2 linked regions of the Homo sapiens genome follow. The protein of the gene in region 1 interacts with the protein of each later gene in a pairwise test. Each region holds a gene or a part of one and is shown on either strand. Other genes may lie near its edges. The genes, in order: ZC3HAV1 and RIGI.

Evidence for each region.
Region 2: the proteins of ZC3HAV1 (region 1) and RIGI interact in binary tests that used the Homo sapiens proteins (3 or more experiments, as listed by UniProt).

Annotation. Positions count from the first base shown.
Region 1 is NC_000007.14:139,070,192-139,081,386, forward strand, and holds part of ZC3HAV1 (zinc finger CCCH-type antiviral protein 1), read right to left. Parts: intron 10,053-11,195; coding exon 9,279-10,052; coding exon of another isoform or gene 8,913-9,278; intron 8,463-8,912; coding exon 8,361-8,462; intron 6,219-8,360; coding exon 6,095-6,218; intron 3,840-6,094; coding exon 3,665-3,839; intron 1-3,664.
Region 2 is NC_000009.12:32,478,763-32,489,957, forward strand, and holds part of RIGI (antiviral innate immune response receptor RIG-I), read right to left. Parts: intron 10,690-11,195; coding exon 10,582-10,689; intron 10,126-10,581; coding exon 9,972-10,125; intron 9,442-9,971; coding exon 9,183-9,441; intron 8,872-9,182; coding exon 8,709-8,871; intron 6,518-8,708; coding exon 6,413-6,517; intron 6,382-6,412; exon of another isoform or gene 2,736-6,381; coding exon 2,578-2,735; exon of another isoform or gene 1,593-2,577; coding exon 1,457-1,592; exon of another isoform or gene 1,410-1,456; intron 1-1,409.

The sequences.
Region 1 (11,195 bases):
ACATCCAACAAACCTGTGTCACATTTAATGAATACAACATTCATGTGTTTGCAGATTGAATGTTACATTCTAAAAACTCCACAGTTTTCATGGGAATCCAGAATATAAAAATAAAAATAAATAAAATAAAAACTCTACAGCTAACACAGACTAAATGTCCCAGCGAGAACTTTGTATTAAAAACCTCAGGAGGCCGGGCGCAGTGGCTCACATCTGTAATCCCAGCACTTTGGGAGGCTGAGGCGGGCAGATCACGAGGTCAGGAGATCGAGACCATCCTGGCTAACATGGTGAAACCCCGTCTCTACTAAAAATATAAAAAATTAGCTGGGCGCGGTGGCGGGCGCCTGTAGTCCCAGCTATTTGGGAGGCTGAGGCAGGAGAATGGCGTGAACACGGGAGGCGGGGCTTGCAGTAAGCCGAGATCGCGCCACTGCACTCCAGCCTGGGCGACAGAGCGAGACTCCGTCTCAAAAAAAAAAAAAAAAAAAACCTCAGGAAGGGCTGGGTTGGGTGCGGTGGCTTACACCTGTAATCCCAGCACTTTGGGAGGCAGAGGCAGGCAGATCACCTGAGGTCAGGAGTTCAAGACCAGCCTGGCCAACATGGTGAAACCCCGTCTCAACTAAAAATACAAAAAATTAGCCAGGCATGGTGGTGGATGCCTGTAATCCCAGCTACTGGGGAAGCTGAGGCAGGAGAATTGCTTGAACCTGGGAGGCAGAGGCTGCAGTGAGCCGAGATCACAACATTGCACTCTAGCCTGGGTAACAAGAGCAAAACTCTGTCTCAAAAAAAAAAAAGCTCAGGAAGTTTCTTGATGTTTTATTAGAGAACATGATTGAACTTGTGTAAATTTAAATTTAAATACAGTATCTTTCCCCCAAATAGTTCCTTTTGGTTTCTGAAACCTTTTTTTTTTTTTTTTGGAGTCTTACTCTGTCACCCAGGCTGGAGCGTAGTGGCACAGTCTCGGGTCACTGCAACCCCTACCTCCTTGGTTCAAGCAATTTTCCTGCCTCAGCCTCCCAAGTGGCTGGAATTACAGGTGCACGCCACCAAGCCCAGCTAATTTTCTGTGTGTATTTTTAATAGAGACACAGTTTCACCATGTTGGCCAGGCTGGTTTTGAACTCCTGACCTCAGGTGATCCACACGCCTTGGCCTCCCAAAGTGCTGGGATTACTGACATGAGCCACCACGCCCGGCCTCCTGGAACCTTGATGTAACTAGAATGCAAATGTTTGTTTGCCAACCCTTCCCCTTTATATCTTACTAAAAATTCCAATTATTTGACATAAAAACCATCAAGACCTATAGCTTATTTTTATTTTAACCAAGGCTAATTAATTTGGGTTTATAATTTTATTTCCACAGGCGCCTGACAGAATCGCTTATTTGACATCATCCTTGGCTTGAGCATACAAAGAATCTGTGCAAAGTTTAATATCATAGGTGTTTTCACACACACGGGAGTTTCAGCAGAACTCTGTTCCACAGAGATGCTACATGGGCCACCACAGGAGAGAGAAGAGCAACAAGGAGGGGTCCAGGAGACAGCTCTGAGCCCATATCCTATTCCACCAGGGCAGCCCTGCTCTACTCTAGTTGGCTCGTTTAGAGTCTTTGAAAGATGGTTTGATAAAATGTATCTGCTGCTAAGACAGTTTGGAAACCAATATGCTGCTGAATTCATGGTAGGGCTGTTTGTGGTTGAGGACCTCACCACAGCACACAGGGTTCCCGCCATGTGGCCCACTATAGGAGGTGTTTTTCTCAGGCCTCACTAACATAACAGAGTAGTGCCTCTCCCAAGTATTTTGTTTGCTTTGGCAGTTAGGCAGCTCAGAGCCAAATGTATAGCCCACTGACTCGTAATTATTAGTTCCGTGCAAAAGTAATCAGTTTTTGCCATTAAAAGTAATTACCACCAACCCAAAAGTAATTTTACACCAACCTAAATATGTAGAACCTTACGCTGCCATTCCTTTGTCCCTGCATTATCTTTTTTTTTTTGGAATCTCACTTTTGTCACCCAGACTGGAGTGCAGTGGTGCAATCTCGGCTCACTGCAACCTCTGCCTGCAGGTTCAAGCGATTCTCCTGCCTCAGACTCCTGAGTAGCTGGGATTACAAGCACGCGCCACCACACCCAGCTAATTTTTTGTATTTTTAGTAGAGACAGGGTTTCACCATGTTGGCCGGGCTGGTCTCGAACTCCTGACTTCAGGTGATCCACCCCACCTCGGCCTCCCAAAGTGCTGGGATTACAGGAGTGAGCCACCGCACCCAGCCCATGCATTATTTTTGGCTTCATTTTAATCTCTTGCTTTCATTTTCTGTTTCTCATCACCCTGATTCCATTACCTGCTTAAGGTCTGTTTTCTCTCTCTCTTTAATCCTATGAGTTAAAGGGAGGAAGGGACACTGAGACAGAAGGACAGAGGCTCTGCTCACCTAAACTTCCCTCCCTATTACTATGCCCCCACTATGGGTCAGCCTAGGATCTTCTAGTTCCAGTCCTTTAAGTCCATCTAAATCCAGACTCTGAATGAATAGTAGTGACTATCTGTACCAGATGTGGTTTCACTGCTTGAGTGAATTAACACATTCCCTGGTCTAATTAACCATGCCATCATCCATACAGTCCTTTAAGTTCTCACTCTCACCCTCTTTTCCAGCTCAAAGCAGTAGTCTCTGTACATTTTATGTGTTTATACATAGAAAGCTATCTCAAGGTTCCACCCTCCCCTCTCATGGTGAGGAAAGAGGGAAGTGCAGCTGACATGTCTCAAGCGGTTCCTTAAAAATAATTAATATATGGCCGGGCGCAGTGGCTCACGTCTGTAATCTCAACACTTTGGGAGGCCGAGGTGGGCGGATAACCTGAGGTCAGGAGTTCACGACTAGCCTGTCCAACATGTTGAAACCCCATGTCTACTAAAAATACAAAAATTAGCTGGGTGTGGTGGTGGTGCATGCCTGTAATCCCAGCTACTCGGGAGGCTGAGGCAGGAAGATCGCTTGAACCCAGGAGATGGAGGTTGCAGTGAGCCAAGATAACGCCATTGCACTCCAGCATGGGTGATAAGAGTGAAACTCCATCTCAAAAATAAATAAATAAATAAAAATAAAAATTAATATATACTTTAATGTATGACTGCAATTGGAGTACATGTTTGCTGAAAAAAAATTGAATATAGCTGTGTACAAAGTAAAAAAATACCACTTCCTCTACCACACTCCACGGGTAACCATGTAGGCTTCAAACATTTTATTAATAGTGTTCTTTTTATTTTATTTATTTATTTATTTTGGAGACAGAGTCTCAATCCATCCCCCAGGCTGGAATGCAGTGGCGAAATCTCAGCTCACTACAACCTCCACCTCCCGGGTTCAAGAGATTCTCCTGCCTCAGCCTCCAGAGTAGCGGGGATTATAGGCGCCTGCCACCACGCCTGGCTAATTTTTGTATTTTTAATAGAGATGGGGTTTCACCATGTTGGCCAGGCTGGTCTCGAACTCCTGATCTCAGGTGATCCACCTGCCTCAGCCTCCCAAAGTGCTGGGCTTACAGGCATGAGCCACCGTGCCCAGCCAACAGTGTTCTTTTTAAGTTGACAAGTTTAAACAAGAGCCCCCTACAAGGAGGAACAGTGCTCACCTCTTCTCCATACTGAATCCATGTGCCAGATTCATTCTTCCAATACCAAATCCATTTGGTGGTGAAGACAGAATTGGCTGGCTTGGTGACAGAAGAAGGAGTGGAGAGGCGTCGGATGGGAAAGGAATCACAACTCATTACCCGAAAATTGATTGTATAACTTCCTACAGAACAGCTGAGAGAGAAAAGTATTAAGTTAACATAATGCTTCATTGACCCCTGTTTTCTACAATCTCGTCTTCCCTAATGAGAGCACAGAATTAAACTTTCAGGGCTAAAATAGATCTTCAAGTTTTCTTTCCATGGCTCCAGGTCCTACACATAAAAGAAAAACGGAAACGCAGAGAGGAAAGTGACTCGCCTGCACCACATAATTAATGGTGTTACATAATGTATTCTTCCCTCAGAAAATATCCCAAAATAAAACTGTGCCCACAAAACTCCTGATTGGCTCAATGTTATAAAGTAAGTTAGAAATTCGCATTTGGTCCATTTTTAAAATTATTTATTATTATTTAAATCGTTATCAAAATGTGGAGACCCTTGCAGAAAATTGGCAAGGTTAAAGTGATTTTCATAATAACATTAAACATTATTTGCTTTTTTCACTTTCATTCTCTCAGGAATACACGATGAAATTTTCCAGAGGCTACACAATATATGATTTCACAGCAGGTTGAATAAAGAAGCGGATATGAGAATCTAGTTATCTTCTATTATGCCAGACATTAATTTGCAAAAATATAAAACTCCTCTCAATAAATTTTTTGTTTTGGAAAACAGTTATTTTATAATTATCCATATAAATATTATATATAAATATGTAAATAAATACACACAGTTATATACCTGGGTATGTATATTAAATGGATATACATGAATATGTATATAGTATTAAATATAGTTACATGAAACATGTTCATTATGTTAACATATAGCAAGCTTATTCTTATTTTTAAGTGAATCAAATATATAATTGTTCTCAGTTTTAATTTTTAATATGGTAAATATTGATAGCTATATTCCACACAAACAGAAATTCTTTGGGATCCTGAATACATTTTAAGTGTTGAGGAGTCCTCTGACCAAAAAGTTTGAGAATTGCTGCTCTAAGAAAGACCTCTTAGATCAGTGGTTCTCAATCAGGAACGATTTTGACCTCAGTGGGTATTTTACAACATCTGAAGACATTTTGGGTTAGGACAACCAGTGGGGCTGGTGGGGGGGTGGTGCTTCCTGTCATCTGTGGATTGAGGCTAGGAATAGTGCTAAACAGAATCTGGCCCAAAACGTCAGTAGTGCTGAGGTTGAGAAACCCGGCTCTCCACTTGCCTGGGAGCGGAAATATAGACCTAGCAACCAGAAAGTAGCTCATGTCGCCCTCTAGTGGTAAAAATCCAGCAACACAGAATCTCCACCCTCAAATCACTAAATTCTCATATGATGAAAAGTAATGTAACTTTTCCCCCTTAAGAATTTCCTTATAAAACTGGGATGTTTCTTATATCCCTGCACACCATAGATAAATACGGTCATATGGGTATCACCCATTTCAGCTCTTCCAGAAGGAGAAATGTTTTTACTTATTTATTTTTGAGACAGGGTCTCACTCTGTCACCCAGGCTGGAGTGTGGTAGCACAATCACGGCTCATTGCAGCCTCAACTTCTTGGGCTCCAGTGATCCTCTCACATCAGCCTCCCGAGTAGCGAGTAGCTGGGACCACAGGTGCGTGCTACCATGCCTGGCTAGTTTTTGTATTGTTGGTAGAGACAGGGTTTCATCATGTTGCCCAGGCTGATCTCGAACTCCTGAGCTCAAGTGATCCTCCTGCCTCAGCCTCCCAAAGTGCTAGGATTACAAGCATGAGCAACCACGCTCGGCCAGAAGCAGAAATGTAAGGTACCCTCTTAGATGCCTTGCTAGAGAAAATAGCAAACATAAGGGAGGTATTAAATGCTAAAGTATACAACAAAATTCTACAGTAAAACTATATGAAATTATTCAAACCGTGTTTTTAAATTATGAAGTTAAGCCAAAGGCTCTTTTGTCCTAAATCATTTAGTACTTTTAATAGTTCTGTGATGAACTGATCAGGATACGAGCCGGACACTGAACTGTGTTTTTTTGCAGGACACAGACAACTGTCAACTAAACAAATAATCATGTCACTGTTTGTTTCATTTGAGTTAGCAAACATTCCCAGGATCTCTGGTATTAGCCAGGCTCAGTGTGACCTCAAACCCACCCAGCTGTGGTTTTCCTTCATTAACTCGGCAGGCATTTGCCATTTTTTATCTCAAGAGGTATTTCACACTCGAATGGGATTCTGATGGAAAAGTGTTTTTTTCTTTTTCCCCTGAGCCTAGCACTAATGCTTCCCTTTGATAATGTTGGACTCTTGAAAGCCAGAGTACAGCCACCAACTTACAGGTGGATTCCGGGGTTACAGTAGCCTTTCTCGATCGTCTCCATGTGCTCAAAGTCCGTCCAGGTTTTACCAATAAGCATCTGCCACCGGTAAGGCAGATGGAAGTGGACTTTGCTGCAGCTACCTACAAAGACAAAGAAGGGGTCTGAGGGACTGTTGAGCAGGGATTCTAACCAATTCAGTCAAGTTCACTGCCAGCTTTCCCCATCCATGCCTGCCCTGCCCCCTGCCAGACAGGTTCCATCTATACCAGCTGACACTGCTGTGTGTCCATTATCCAGGTTCCTTCATTACCTTGGAGACTCATCAGAAAACAAAAATTCAGGCAGAGTGTGGTGGCTCACATCTGTAATCCCACCACTCTGGGAGGCCGAAACAGGCGGATCATTTGAGGCCAGGAGTTCACAACCAGCCTAGCCAACATGGTGAAATCCTGTCTCTACTAAAAATACAAAAATTAGCCAGGCATGGTAGTGGGTGCCTGTAATCCCAGCTTCTCGGGAGACTGAGGCAGGAGAATCACTTGAATCTGGGAGGTGGAGGTTGCGGTGAGCCGAGATCACCCCACTGCACTCCAGCCTGGGTGACAGAGTGAAATTCTGTCTCAAAAAAAAAAAAGAAAAAGAAAAGGAAACAAAAATTCCCCACTGCCCCCAAAGTCACTCCACCCAGATAGAAATTCGAGGTAACCAGAAATTTAGTTACCCTTTCTGCACCCCCCCAAGTGTATGAAGCCAAAATGCTCTCCAGCAGAGGCAACAGCCTTTATTTCCTTGAAGCCCTGGCCTACAGTTCATCTCTTCCAGAAAGATTCTCTTAACGAATCTCACTCCATCCCCATCTGACTTGTATTTTTTGCATTCCTTTAGCCAGTACCCAATAGTCAGTTGGGGGTTAATTTTTTATATGTTTTTACTTACTTCACGCAGTTTTCCCATTTGCAAATTTTTTGTTTGTTTTTGTTTTTGTTTTGAGGCAGAATCTCACTCACTCTGTCGCCCAGGCTGGAGTGCAATGGCGCAGTCTTGGCTCACTGCAACCTCCACCTCCCGGGTTCAAGAAATTCTCCTGCCTCAGTCTCCCTAGTAGCTGGGATTACAGGCATGTGCCACCACGCCCAGCTAATTTTTGTATTTTTAGTAGAGATGGGTTGTCACCATGATGGCCAGACTGGTCTTGAACTCCTGGCCTCAAGTGATCCACCTGCCTCAGCCTCCCAAAGTTCTGGGATTACAGGCGTAAGCCACCATGCCTGGCATTTTATGGATGTTTTCATGCCCTACCTTAATTATAAACTTACTAAAGAGAAGGCTGCACTATGGTTTAGCTTACATCCCCCTTACATATTTGGCACAGGGCTAGGCATACAAAAGACAGCCATTGCAGGAATGCCGGCTGAAGAATGAATTGATGTTATAAGCTACAGTACAGGAAGACAGAAGATAGTTCTGTTTTTCAAAATTTGCCTTATATTATGTTTAAATTGTTTTGAAATATTCAAAATGAAGATGTGTGACAACTTCAAAACAAACAAAAAAGACAGGTTTAGACACTGCAGGGACACCCATAGAGTGGCCCTACTTGAGACTTGGCTGACTGAAAAGTACACAACCACTCATTATAGTCCACACCTCACACTTGTTAGAATGGCTGCTATCAAAGACAAACAGTGGCTGGGCACAGTGGCTCATGCCTGTAATCCCAGCACTTTGGAAGGCCGAGGCGGGTGGATCACTTGAGGTCAGGAGTTCAAGACCAGCCTGGCCAACATGCAAAAACTCCGTCTCTACTAAAAATACAAAAATTAGCCGGACGGGGTGGCACACGCCTGTAACCCCAGCTACCTGGGAGGCTGAGGCAGGAGAATCACTTGAACCCAGGGGGCAGAGGTTGCAGTGAGCTGAGATTACACCACTGCACTCCATCCTGGGTGACAGAGTGAGACTCCGTCTCAAAACAAACAAACAAAAAAGGCAAACAAACACACACAAAAAGAACAAGTGTTGGTGAGGATGTGGAGAAATTTGAACGCTTGTGCATTGCTGGTGGGAAAGAAAAATGGTATAGCCACTATGAATAATAGTTCCTCAAAAAAAAAAATTAAACATAGAAGTACTATATGATCCCCCAACTCCACTTCTGGGTATATATCCAAAAGAATTGAAAGCAGGGTTTTCAGAAGGCATTTGCACACCCATGTTCATAGCAGTGTTATTTACAATGGCCAAAAGGTGGAAGCTTACAGAAAAGTCCTTAGGTTACTCACCATTAAGCGGACAACCCTTACACAGATGGTCAAGACAAATTTCCTCTGAGTCATGATCATCCACCCTAGAAGATGTGGTACTTGTGACATCAGATAAAGAATCTATGAAACAAAAAAGGATGCATGTATGCTGATCTTAATGTTTAAACCAAAAATCAAAGCACTTGGTCTCACAATGGGAAAGAATATCTGAAATGGGGGCCATGTTCAAGAAAATTCCTATGATTTATGTTTTGCCCATGAGCATCTAGACAGCCCCTCCATAAAACAAAAATGTGGACCTCAGAGTCCTGTGAAAGCTATGTTTATTTCTTAAATCATAGTTGAAATATTCCTATTGTCAATAAATGTGGCAGTTTATTCCCTGTGGTTCTACTGGTTGGCCCTTCCCTGTCTTCACTAGTCAATCTCCTCACCAGACCACCCCATAACCAAAACCCTCTAACTCTCTACCCTTTAAGAACTGGGGAACATCCAAGGAAAAACCACCAGCCATAGCCACTCTGCTGCAGACTCAAGACACAGAGGCCCCTTTGTCCTTCAGTGACTTACACTGAGCAGAGCCTGTTGTCTTCCTTGTGAGCTCGCTGGCAGAGGAAACAGGAACCTGGGTGCAGTTCTGCCCTTGGGCCCCCCAGACTGCAGCTCTGTTGCTTGAGGAAAGGGCAGCAGGTGACTGAGGCAGAGTGCTGACTTGTGCAGGGGCAGTGGATTCCCCAGGTGTGGTGGGGACCAGGTTCCTCAGACTCTGACTTCCAGTACGTAACATATCTTTTTCTGCCTTGACTGCCATTGTTAAGCCAAAACCAGTGGCACCAGTTTTTTCTACATCAGTAGTTTTATCCACTACTTGACTAGAGCCATTTGGTATATCATGAACAAATGTACTAGCCCAAAGTGTCTTCCCTTTGTATTTACCGTTAACAAGTGCTACTCTTGGGTCAGCATCATCTGCGATTCTGCCAGTGGCCTGGACATCTCGGGAAGCAGGTCCAGCATCCTGAATCCTAGGTGATGATATTTCTCTGTGACCGCTGCTAGTGCTTTTGTAATTTAAGGATCTGGTAGAAGTTATATCTGTGGCCACTCCATCAGCATTATTATTAAAAAGAGGGCCAGGCTGGATGTCCTGAGTTCCACTTTTGCCATTGATGATCCTGTAGTCTGAGGAAAGCAAGCCTGTGCCCTTTCTGGTGGTCACAGCTTCAGGTGTTTGCAGAGAGCCAAGAGAAGAGCGGGCGGCAGGTAGCGTGGGAGAAAACACAGTCTTTCTCCTGGCGCCTTGGTCATTCGTCCAGGATGTGAGGCTCTTCCAGTTGGGGGCTGATGTTGAATTGGAAGCAAGGTAAGTGCTGCCTGGATTTCCATGCAAGAGGTCCTCTTGACTGCCGTTCTCTAAAAACCTCTGGCTTGTCCCGGCCTGACTTGTTCCTCCAAGATCAGTAGCCTTGGACGAGCCTGAGGGAGGCCGAGCGCGATCCTGACTCCCCAGATACGTGAACTTGCGGGTGAGATCGTCCACAGGCGCGTCCTCCAGGGAAGCCCTGTGGCTGATCTGATCTGGACTAGGTGTGCAGGACCTCTCAGCAGACGCTGAAGCAGACGCAAGAAATTCTTGGCTGCCCTGAAAGAACCGATCTCTACTCTTGCTTCTAGCCCTATATGCCATGTTTCTACGATGTGAAGAAGGAGCTAAGGGGAAAAAAAGCCAAAATGAAACAAAATAATGAACATTGGAGTTAATGTGACTGAGTTCCTACCACCCTTCCTCCTCTTCACTTTTGTAGCTTTGCTATCCAAGTGCTATCAAATTACTTGGCGTAATCTGATGTGTAAAAATCTTGAAGATGGGTGGTTTGACACTGACGGTTTTTTTTGTTTTTGTTTTTGTTTTAAGAGATGGAGTGTTGCTCTGTTGCCCAGGCTGGAATGCAGTGGCCCGACCACAGCTCACTGCAAGCTCGAACTCCTGGGCTCCAGCGATCCTCCCACCTGAGCCTCCTGAGTAGCTGAGACTACAGGTGCTCACCAACTGTGTCAGCTGATGAAAGAATCTTGACATTCTGCCTGCACGGCAGAGCACGTCATTCCATGGCCTAGGATGACAGTGAGGATCAGCTCTAGGATGACAGTCCCCGGCTCTCTTCTGGGACTCAAAGTAGCCCCCAAACCCCAAAACTTTTAGGTGGGGCTGTCCACTATCTCCTGGTCCTGAGTCAACGTTCATCACTGGGGTCAATGGAGAGATAGATTAGGGCAAATCAGAGAAGATTTTCCAGAAAGCATTCGATTTTGCCCATATCGTGATACGGGTGTACCTGGCTATTGACAGATTCACAATGCTCAAAGAAACCAACAGAAAATGAAACCACAGTCTAAAGGCCTGACTTTGTTTAAGCTGGAAATTTTTCCAGTTTTCTTCATCTCACTCCATAAGGCCAAAGTATATCAGAAGTCAACATCGACAAAGCAGTGTGGCCTGCAGGGAATTGGCCTTCCTCTAGAAACTTGATAGGTCACACCCTTCTGGAAGCAGGGAGGAAGGAAGGAGTTAGGGTGTGTTTGTGAGCGCGTGTGGAGTGTGTGTGGCGTGCATGCACGTGATGTTTATGTGGGGTGTGTTTGTGTGCCGGGGGTACATGTGGAAGATGTGCATGTCTGTGTTTGAGGCACATGTGCACGTGTGGTGTGTGAATGTGAGGTGTGCATGTGTGCTCGTGTGTGTGTGTGAATTGTGCTTTTTTGTGTGGGGAAGGGGTAGAAGAGACATTTTTTTTCTCTTCCAAACCCAGGGGGCAGTAGTTATGTAGTAAAAGCAAACACCCTCCTCCTGTC
Region 2 (11,195 bases), on another chromosome or scaffold:
CTGCCCAGACTGATCTCCAGCTCCTGAGCTCAAGTAATCCACCCACCTCAGCCTCCCAAAGTGCCATGGTGACAAGTGTGAGCCACCATGCCCGGCTTAATTTATGTTGAGAGTTTAGACTTATGAACATGATCAAAAAATAATAATACAGATTAAATTTAGCTATTACATTGAATAGCACAAAATATTGAGAAACATTCTCCCAGTTTTTGAAAAACTATTATACAGTTCAGCAAAAAATTGCTTGCATCACTGGCAAACGAGTGAAGTTCCAACATACACCTTTGTTGTTTCATCTTTATCTTCTAACATTAATGAAACTATATACCAACAACCATATCAGAAAGAACCACACTTCTTTGTCATTGCAACCCTTGGTTGGCCATGGATACAAAAAATCTGCAAAAACCACCAAAAGCATTCTATGAGAACCAATTGGCTATGTGGAATTTACAATAAAGAATAGTTTATTTTTATTTATAAATTGTGGTTTGTATAACTCCTCTATATCAATAAAATAATAAGCTTATGTACATATATATGCATACATTTTTTCTCTAGTGGGTTGTTAAATATTAACCAGCACAGCACTGGTTACACATATGTACAGTAAATACTTAGGTAGAGGCCAAAAAAACCCCAAAATTATTAGCACTAATTACCTTTGGGAAAGAATTCAAAACAGGGAGAAGGAAAACTTTTTTTTGTTTGTTTAATATCTATTTTTTAATCATATGCAGGCAGTGAGATTATGTGCCATTTTGGTTTCCTCTTTATGTAAAAATATATATAGGCCAGGCACAGTGGCTCATGCCTGTAATTCCAGCATTTTGGGAGGCAGAGACGGGTGGATCACTTGAGGTCAGGAGTTTGAGACCAATCTGGCCAACATGGCAAAACTCCATCTCTACTAAAAATACAAAAATTAGCCGGGTGTGGTGGCGCACACCTGCAGTCCTGGCTACTCGGGAGGCTGAGACATGAGAATTGCCTGAATCCGGGAGGCAGAGGTTGCAGTGAGCCATGATTGAGCCACTGCACTTGACCCTGGGCGACAAAGCAAGACTCCATCTCAAAAAAAAAAAAAAAGTATACATAAATTATGGTTTTTTTAATATCGTTAAAACACTTTTTCATATTTTTAAAGCTTTATAAAATTACTAAAAAAGAACGTTAAACAAAAAGAATGCTACTGTCTGTGAACCATATGGGAAACACCCTTTGCAAATCTTGTTTTTCCTTCTTCTAAATAGGGAATGGTATAAGCAACAGACTCTTCCCATAGGTACTAGATTTCATTGAAGCTAAATAGTCCTACCATCTCCATCTTCCTACATCCAGGACAACTCCCTAAGCATCCCCAAGTTTATATATATTAAATGCAATACATGTTTGTTTTGCCATTCCAGTCACCAAGAATGCTACTGTGGCTTCCTCCTCTGAAAACACCACTCACCTTCAAATCTCTGAGTAAGATCTTGCTCAATCTCATCGAATCCTGCTGCTCGGACATTGCTGAAGAAGTCTTTCAAGTAATCCAGAGCATCTTTCATTCGTGCATGCTCACTGATAATGAGGGCATCATTATATTTCTGTTGAAAGTAAAAACTGTCTCAATATGCTTCCAATGTCTAACACATTCACTGTATTTAAGTTCAATTCGTTGTATTTAACGAATTGTTTTAAGAAAACTTTTCTTTTCAAATCTATTCCAACTTAGCTTTTTAAAGATGAATGGCCTCTAACAGTTATGTAACAAAATCTTTGAACCAAATACTGTTAAAAGAAAACTCAATTAGCTAGTAACATTAATTATCATCACTTTGGATTATTGAATTTTACCTTAGAAAAGAAAAACTGCACGAAAAACACATATCAAAATTTAAAAATAAGGAAAGTAAATCAACTTCCACATCAACCTGCCTCATAATTCCAACATTTCACTTGATTTCTATATACATCTGAAGCCATCACTAAATTGTCAGTGTACCTTCCAAAATGATGGCCCTGACCACATCCATCAAATGTACAACTAAGCTAACTAAAATTCTACAAATGCATGCTAATTGAATGCATTTTAATATATTTTCAATGGCTGGATAAGCAGAGGTGATAGCTGTCACTATAGTTCCTTAACTTCTTGGTGAGCCAGAGAACCTGGATTTCTGAGCATGGGGCGTCACCAAAGGTGAAGAAATGTGTGCTTCAGGACATAGCAACAGAACTTTCCACTTGCTGAGCTTTCAAGATGCTGTCACTGGACTGGTCTTGTATCTGGAATAATGTTCTCTCACAATCACCCAATTTTTTCCAACCATGTCAGTTAATGCTAGAGGCATGGCATAGAATCTGAGCCTTTATTTCAGTCCTGTTGCCTGCAGTATGAAATTTCAGAAAGGAAATCGAGATGATGTTGAATGGGACAACTTTTGGAGTTTGCTTCATAAGAACTTTCTGGAAAGGTTCCTAAGTGAGCTCTTGAGGACAGGATGAGAAGTTGATGTTATCTTGGCTTCCACGGTGCCACTCCCAGTAGGTGCTGTGACCAGAATACGACTCTTAAAAAGAGGAACGTACCCGCAAATGTGAAGTGTATAAAAACAGGGCTTTACAAATCCTGCTCTCTTCATCTTTGTCTGGCATCTGGAACACCATGCATGCTTTCTGAACTGTAACAATCCATTGTTCATATTTCTGTGTTCCAAATTCCCTATTTTGAATTTGAGATAAGTTTTCTGTTAAAAAAAAAAAAAAAAGTTTTTCACTGTCTCATATGGTCAGTCATTTAGGGTTATAAACAGGCCTCACCCTCTAATTTTCTTTTTCTTTTTTTTTTTCCTCGAGGCAGAGTCTCGCTCTGATGCCCAGGCTGTAGTACAATGGCACGATCTTGGCTCACCGCAACCTCCACCTCCCGGATTCAAGCGATTCTCCTGCCTCAGCCTGCTAAGTAGCTGAGACTACAGGCGTGTGCCATCACGCCTGGCTAATTTTTGTATTTTTAGTAGAGACAGGGTTTCACCATGTTGTCAAGCTGGTTTCAAACTCCTGACCTCAGGTGATCCGCCTGCCTCGGTCTCCCAAAGTGCTGGGATTACAGGCGTGAGCCACTGCACCTGGCCTAATTTTCTTTCTTACTCTCTGCAAACAGGATATTCCTCCTGAAATAGTCTTAAGTCATCTAGTTAAAACTATTTAACTGGATTCAGACTGGTGAAAAGGTGGAAGCAGGGTACCTGAGGTGGGAGGAGTAAGAAAATAGAAACTCATGTGACTCCATCACCATCTCTCCATCCTTCTGCTCCTTCCCCCATTGAGATAACACCACTGTGCTGCTGGATAATATGACAACCTCCAAACTGTTCTCCCTACCTCTTGCCTTGTTCCCTCCCTTGAGTTTTAAGCAGTGCATCTGTGTGTTTGTTTGTGTGTGTGTGTGTGTGTGTGTGTGTGTTTGATTGTTTCTTGAGTACTGTGTACCAAGAATCAAAGTACCTTACATTCATAATTTCATTTAATTTTCACAACCCATGAGATACATATTACATTTCATATATTGGGAAACTGAAGTTCAGAAAAGCCAAGTAATAAGTAATTTACCCATAGTCACACAGCAAGTACGTGGAGAAAGGGCAGGAATTCAAACCCACATGTGTCAGATGCCCAAGCTCTACTGGCTCTATGAGCTGACAACCAAAGCAGCCCAGAAATAAAACAGTAGACATGAAAAACCCAACTTTGCCTTTAAAAATGAAGAAGTAAAAATAACAGGTCTCAAGAGCTTCATCAGAGGAGGATATATAAAAGCAGGAGATTGGCCGGCCGCAGTGGCTCATGCCTGTAATCCCAGCACTTTGGGAGCCCCAGGCGGGTGGATCACGAGGTCAAGAGATTGAGATCACCCTGGCCAACAGGGTGAAACCCCGTTTCTACTAAAAATACAAAAATTAGCTGGGGGTGGTGGCACGCACCTGAAGTCCCAGCTACTTAGGAGACTGAGGCAGGAGAATCGCTTGAACCCAGGAGACGGAGGTTGCAGTGAACCGAGATCACGTCACTGTACTCCAGCCTGGCGACAGAGTGAGACTCTTAAAAAAAAAAAAAATCAAGGAGGAGATTTAGGACTCAGTTCACCCTATGTTCTGCTTTGCTGTGAACTTGGGCCTCCTGTTCTCCAGAGCAGCATTCTCAGGGCCAAGCATAGAATCGGCCCTCAAAAGACACTTATCACACATGCATCTGTCTGTGTGCATCTCCTAGGATAAGCCTCAGTTGCTTGGTTCAAAGCTGGGGCATCTGCTGTGGTCCAGGCTCTGTGTAGGGTGCTGGGGATAAGATGAGGAGACTATGGCTGTGTTCTCAAGCAGCTGAGTCTGTGAGTTACTCTGGTATCAGTTCGCCAGGGCTCCTCATGAAGAGCACAGTACAACAAAAGTCACAAGCAAGAGCTGTATTTCTGGGTTAAATTCTTCCCCTCACTCATTCATTTTCAATAATAGGAACAAAGGAGGCTACCCAAACAAGTAGTATTGACATGCTTCTTTCCAAGTTGCAGCTACAGCGAGGTGGCCAGCAGTAAAGAAGATGAGCCAACAGGTACTGATTGAACCTGGGTAGGTGTAAAAATAGCCTAAGCAGTTTAGAGATGAGCAGCTAACTGGATTCGGACTGGCAAAAAGGTGGAGGCAGGGTACGGGAGGTGGGAGGAGTAAGAAAATAGAAACTCACGTGACTCCATCACCGTCTCTCCATCCTTCTGCTACTTCCCCAATTCAAACCACATCAGTGTGCTGCTGGATAATATGACAATCTCCAAACTGGTCTCCCTTCCTCTTGCCTTGTTCCCTCTAACCCATACTCTACCCAGTGGTTAGAGGGAGTTTGCAAAATTGCAGATGAGAAATCATCCCACCCCACTGCTTAAAAGCCTTTAGTGGTCCTGCAGCCAAAATCCTGCCCCAGCTCACACACTCCTCCCCATGCTCTGGCCTCTGCTTGCTTTTGCTTCTCATTTCTGGCCACTCTCCTTTCAGCATTCTACAGGACTAATGGAAGTCCCTATACTCTTTCTAGTCTCCTGGCCTTTGCATATGCTATTCCCTGTGCCTGAAACACACCTTATCACCCCCACCACACCAGCTGCTTTAGTATTAGTATTACTTCTCTAATTTTGGTCTTACCATCAGACTAGAAATGCCCTGAGGCCAGGGGCTGTATCTTAGGGTTCATGCTGTATTCCCATCACCTAGCCCATTCCTTAGCACTAAATGAATGAACATATGCATGAACACATTCGGGAAACTGCTAAATCAAAAGGATTCAGGTAGGGAAGTAGTAGAATATAACATTGGAAAGATAAGTAGAACCTGGGTGTTCAGGCAGGGCTCAGACTGCAGGTTAGAGGCGTGAAGATTATCCTGTAGGCAAAGGGTTTTTAAGCAGGACAGGGACATGATAAAATGTATTCATGAAGACTAACTAGTTCATGAGAGGTTGAATGGAAGAGAGAGCAGAGGTAGGCAAAATCAGCTAGAAGGCTGTTAGAACAATTATAATAGAAATTAAACTGTGAAAGAAAAGGGGAGAGAAAAGCAAAATAAGTGTGAGAGGAGACACTCCATGAGGTGTCTTACAGACGTCACATTTAACATCCCTAAAACTCAAAACTCAAAACCTTGTACCTGCCAAGGCTGCTTCTAGTCCTGGTACCAGGACCACCCACTGGCATTCATAGAGGTGCCTAAGCCAGATGCCTGGGGGGAAATCAGCCCCTCCTGCCCCTTTCTCATCCCCACCCAAATCCGTTTAGCCATTCAATCATAACACTCACAGTTGGAAGCATCTCACATGTGTCTCCTTCCTTCTCCAATCCATCTCTACTGCCTCTCTTTGGTCCTTCTCATTCACTGGTATCTTTATTACGTCACTAATCAGTTTTAATCTTCACTTTTTTCCCCATTGTTTTTAGGATAAAATTCAAATCCAGGCCCTTCACTGTCTTCCCCTGGCCCATCTCTAGTCGCACTCCTTTAATGCTGGGAAATGTGCTGGGTGATTGTCCCTAGATATAAATCTGAGCCAGTAGAGGAATGGTGGTTTCATTCAGGTGAACAGGAAAGTCAGGAGGGAAAGCTGATTTAGAAGGTAGAGAAAGCAATGAACTGACTTAAGTATGGTTATTTTTCAGGTGCATGTGTCTGGATGAACTTACTTTGGATTTAAAAGGAAAAAAAGGAAGAAAGAAAGAATAGAGGAGGACATATAAGGCTCCTAAATAACCTATAATCAAGGAAGACAACCTCTGGATATGGTCTTGACATTGTCTGAACTAAGGAGAACACAAAAAGACGATAGTGAACAATAAATGGCTATTCCCCAGTAGAGAGAACACAAAATATGAGATTTATCTCACCGAGGTCTTTGCAGATTCTCTTTGCCAGACTCTCTGTGTCCCTCATCAGCTGAGCTATGATGTATTTAAATTTGTCGCTAATCCGTGATTCCACTTTCCTGAAAACTAGAGACGTCAAAAAAAAAAGAAAAAGAAAAAAAGAGTGAGTATATTTTCAGGAAGGACAGATTGTAGTTCAAAGTAGGTATCTCTAAAACCTTTCTCTGCCTTTGATACTTCCTCTGAAAAACCTAAGGTTCCAGGCTAACTGGCAGGTGGTCCAGATGATACAACAAATGCTCAAAATGCAATGGCTCCCTGTTGCTTCTTGTACTGATTCTAACACCTGTCTTTCATGGTGTAGGTCTAACTAGCTTCTTTTTTTTTTTTTTTTTTTTTTTGATTGAGACCAAGTCTCACTGTGTCACCCAGGCTGGAGTACAGTGGCGCGATCTCGGCTCACTGCAACCTCCGTCTCCCAGGTTCAAGTGATTCTTCTGCCTCAGCCTCCCAAGTAGCTGGGACAACAGGCGCACACCACCATGCCCAGCTAATTTTTGTATTTTTAGTAGAGACGGGGCTTCACCATATTGGCCAGGCTGGTCTCGAACTCCTGAGCTGGTGACCCACCCGCCTTGGCCTCCCAAAGTGCTGGGATTACAAGCGTGATCCACCGCACCCGGCCTAACCAGCTTCTTACTGTGGCTGTCCTGTTACCTCCTCTCTGATGAGGCGGGCATCTCTCATGTCTCTGCAAGTGCCACAATCTAACCCTGTCTCTGTGCTTTGATATTCTCCCTCCCCACACAGCTCCCAGCAGTATTCACACTGATCCTACCATTTATCAATATATTATTTCAGCCTAATTATTAATTGCCTGCAATGTGCCATGCTTTGATTATAGACAGTTGAAAGAACACACTTCATGCTCCATACAGGGCTGTGATCTTAAGGGAGAGAAATATACATGGCTAACTAACCGTAGCAGTTCTCTAACAGAAGTACATGTAAAGTGTAGCCGGGTGTGGTGGCTCACACCTGTAATCCTAACACTTTGGGAGGCCGAGGAGGGTGGATCACTTGAGGTCAGGAATTCAAGACCAGCCTGGCCAACATGGTGAAACCCTGTCTGTACTAAAAATACAAAAAATTAGCCAGGCGTGATGGCACACGCTTGTAATTCCAGCTACTCAGGAGACTGAGGCAGGAGAATCACTTGAACCCAGGAGGTGGAGGTTTGCAGTGAGCCGAGATCGCACCACTGCACTCCAGCCTGGGCAACAGCACGAGACTCTGTCTCAAAAAAAAAAAAAAAAAAAAGAAGTAGTACACGCAAAGTGTCACAAAACACAGGGAAAGTAACACCTAATTCTTCCAGGGAAGTCAGAGTTGTAGAATAAATACAGGAAGAAGAAAGAAGAAAGCAAGAGTAGTCATGTATATTCCATCACAACTTGGCAAAGAAAAAGAAAAAAAAAAAAGAGCAGTGATGTACAAAGGAAGCACAGACAAAAGGTGGGAGAGAGAAAGCACACGGCATGATTGAGGAGCCCAGAGGAATGCAACATGGTTGGGTTTATGAATGTTTGGAGGTGATGAAGCTCAGAGGGCAGGAGGAACCGGATTGTAAAGAAATTCATATGTGACACTGAAAAGTTGGGATCAGGTACATCAAAATCCTTACTTACAAGCAGCCTTCAAAAAGGAACTTATCTACACCACTCCCTATTACATGTCTATTTGTTCTACCTCAGAAATACAGTCACATACTACTCAGAGAGCAAGGGTGAAGTCATATATATTTTCTGTATCCCTCTCTTCCTTTCAGGGTTAGTGTAATAATAACATCAATAAACAACTGTTAGTCATATTAAAAAATCATATCTGATCTTTGGAGGAGTGACATCATGAATTCAGATCATTCCATTTCAACTAAAATGATCAAATACATATTCAAACAGTGATGACCACACAGGCACAGAGCATGGGAAAAGGCTGAGTGAGCCCAGCTCTTGGCTATCTGATGCCTAAATTCTCTCATCACCTCTTTTGCATTGCTAGTACATTTATAAGAGGTTTTTGGAAGCAAAGAGGAAGAATGTTTGCTCTCTACAGGCCACTTCTGAGGTTCATCCATTGCTTGGGATGAGAGCTCAGTTAGAGAGGCTAAAAAATGTGACTGTTACTCAAGTTCAAGGTTAAATATTTTCTACTAAACAGAGAGAGGGTCAAAGTTCAGTATTCGTCTAGATGGCTCTGAACTAGAGGTAGTAGAGAGTAACAGAATCTCAAAGGCTTGTTATTGGATCCAACTTACACTTCTGGGGCTTATAAACAACTTGCTCCAGTTCCTCCAGATTGTGTTTGACTGTTGCTATCACTGACGCATCAAGAGAAGCACACAGCTTGCAGATATAATCCAAGGCTTCATCTGTGTTTTTGGCATCCCCAACACCAACCGAGGCAGTCAGCCCAATGACCTGTAAGGAGCATTCAAAATCATTAGATGTCTGAGAAATGGTACAATGTTTCCACAACCCCTCATATAACTCTTTCCTGCTGGGGTAGGGCGTTTTTTTGTTTTTACTAACACACAGTGTATGGCACATGGAGGCACATAATGCATATTTACTAAGTGAACAAATGAATAAAGGAAACAAAATTCATAATGAGTTGTACAATATGGACTTGGGACCTGAGAAGGACATCTTCAGTGTGGCCATAAGAGTAAGAAAATAGGAGTTAGGAAGATTATAGCTCTTCTGAAGCATTCGTCTGACTTTGGAGATACCTGGGGCAGTGGGCCTGAAGATCCTCCAAGTTTCTGATCTAGATAATTAAACATGATCATATTGTACGGGTGTTGTTTACTAGTGTTGTGGCATTCATCAAATATCATCAAAGTAAAGATGGATAGTGATGGAATCGTTCCCTTTTTAAGGTTGTTCACAAGAATCTGTGGAGTTAAAATGATGATGTCATTGTTCTCAACAATCTGTTCCACTGGGACATTCTCAGCTGTTGCTCCAGAAATGCCTGTAACTCTATACCTGGGAAATGACAGAAATTCCATATTACTAACCACGATGTGGATAAGGAACCACAAAGATGAAATGCTAGATCAGAACATCAACTGATTAAATTCTCCCTGAGTCCAAAAGAAGAATAGCTGTAGGCAAGTCCTTAGCACAGAGCCTGACACATAGTAAGAGATCAATAAATCCAAGCTAGTTGTAATTTATAGTACTATATATTATTTTAAGTCACTAAGAGAGAAAAGAGTACGTAAAAGAATAATATCAAATAAATTATAAAATCACTAAAGAAGTTAAATGTGCCACGTAAACATCAAATTTATTCCTGAAGTCATTTACTCCCCATAGAAGGGCAAACCAGGGGAGTTTAAGTTTTCTGGTACATCTAACAAAAAAGACTTGAATCCATGAAGGGATAACATCTGGATTATAAAAAAGCTGAATCTAATATAAATTTTTTTAAATCATTTGTCAAAAACAAAACAGAAAACACATCAATTACATGAAGCTGGAGAAAAAGAAGTTGAAGCAACTATTATACCTACCCATGTCTTTCAAAGTATTTTGAGAATACAGATTTCTGCTGTTCATACACTGGGATCTGATTCGCAAAAAAGACAACTTTCCCCTTTTGTCCTTGTGGGAATTTTTTAAGATGATGTTCACATATAAGCAGTGAAACAAAGGTTTTTCCACAACCTTTTAACATGTAAGGAAAAAAGAAAACATGTAACTCATATATTAGATATTTCTCTGGAAAGGTGTTTATTTTTGGCTCTTCTAATACCACTGAGCTGACTAATTAATTGATAATTTAAATATGTTAATGATTACAGAATTTACACTATGACTAAAAAATATCAAGCTGCTCCCTAAGTAGCATGCCAACAGCCAGGACCCAAAAGCAAGCTAAAAGAGGACACTTTTCTTTACCTTCTCATGAAAGGTAAAGAAAATACATTAAATACATTAATGTACATAATTAATTAATTACATAATCCCATAAAAAACATTAGGATTATATTAGGACAGTTTTCTCAAAAGACACATGGAACAAGGAAAAAACTGAAACTTGCCCATTCTGTCCCAGTATTCAACAAAAGAAAAAAAAGGAAGCAAACAGAAAAACTATGTAAGTAATGGCAATAGGCTTACCTGTAGGAGCACATATTATTGTGTTTTTTCCTTTCATAGCAGGCAAAGCAAGCTCTAATTGGTAATTTCTTGGTTTAAATGGGCTGTACAAGTTTGTATCAGACACTTCTGGAATACAAAAGGAGCAAAATTACCAAACAGTTCCTGCTCTGAGGAATCACGGCAATAGCTACAGTCTAATGTCCACAAATTCTGACTCCAGCAAGAAGATCCTCATTGGAGAAAGTTTAGAATCCTTTCTCTTGGTAACCATTCTAGCTTTTCCACTAATTTGAAGTACAGAATTCTCTCAGTGACAAAGTATTGATGGCAAGAAAGAAAAAAAAAAAAACATGAATTATTTTTTATACAATCATGGAAGGCTAACAGAAACCAAAGAAAGAATGGCCCCATTCAGGGTAAGACAAGCTGTCTACTAAAGGCAATGCTGTATGTGAAAAAAGCAACAAATCCTCCCACGATCTTTGAAGAAAACCAAACTGTTAACATTGGATTCTCAAAGCAATTTCTTATTAAGGAGCAATAATGCTTTGTCGTTCTTCAAGTTCTCAAATGATATTTTCTCTCAACATAACCAGAAGTTTTAAAAAATAATCAAAGGCTTTATCTCAATA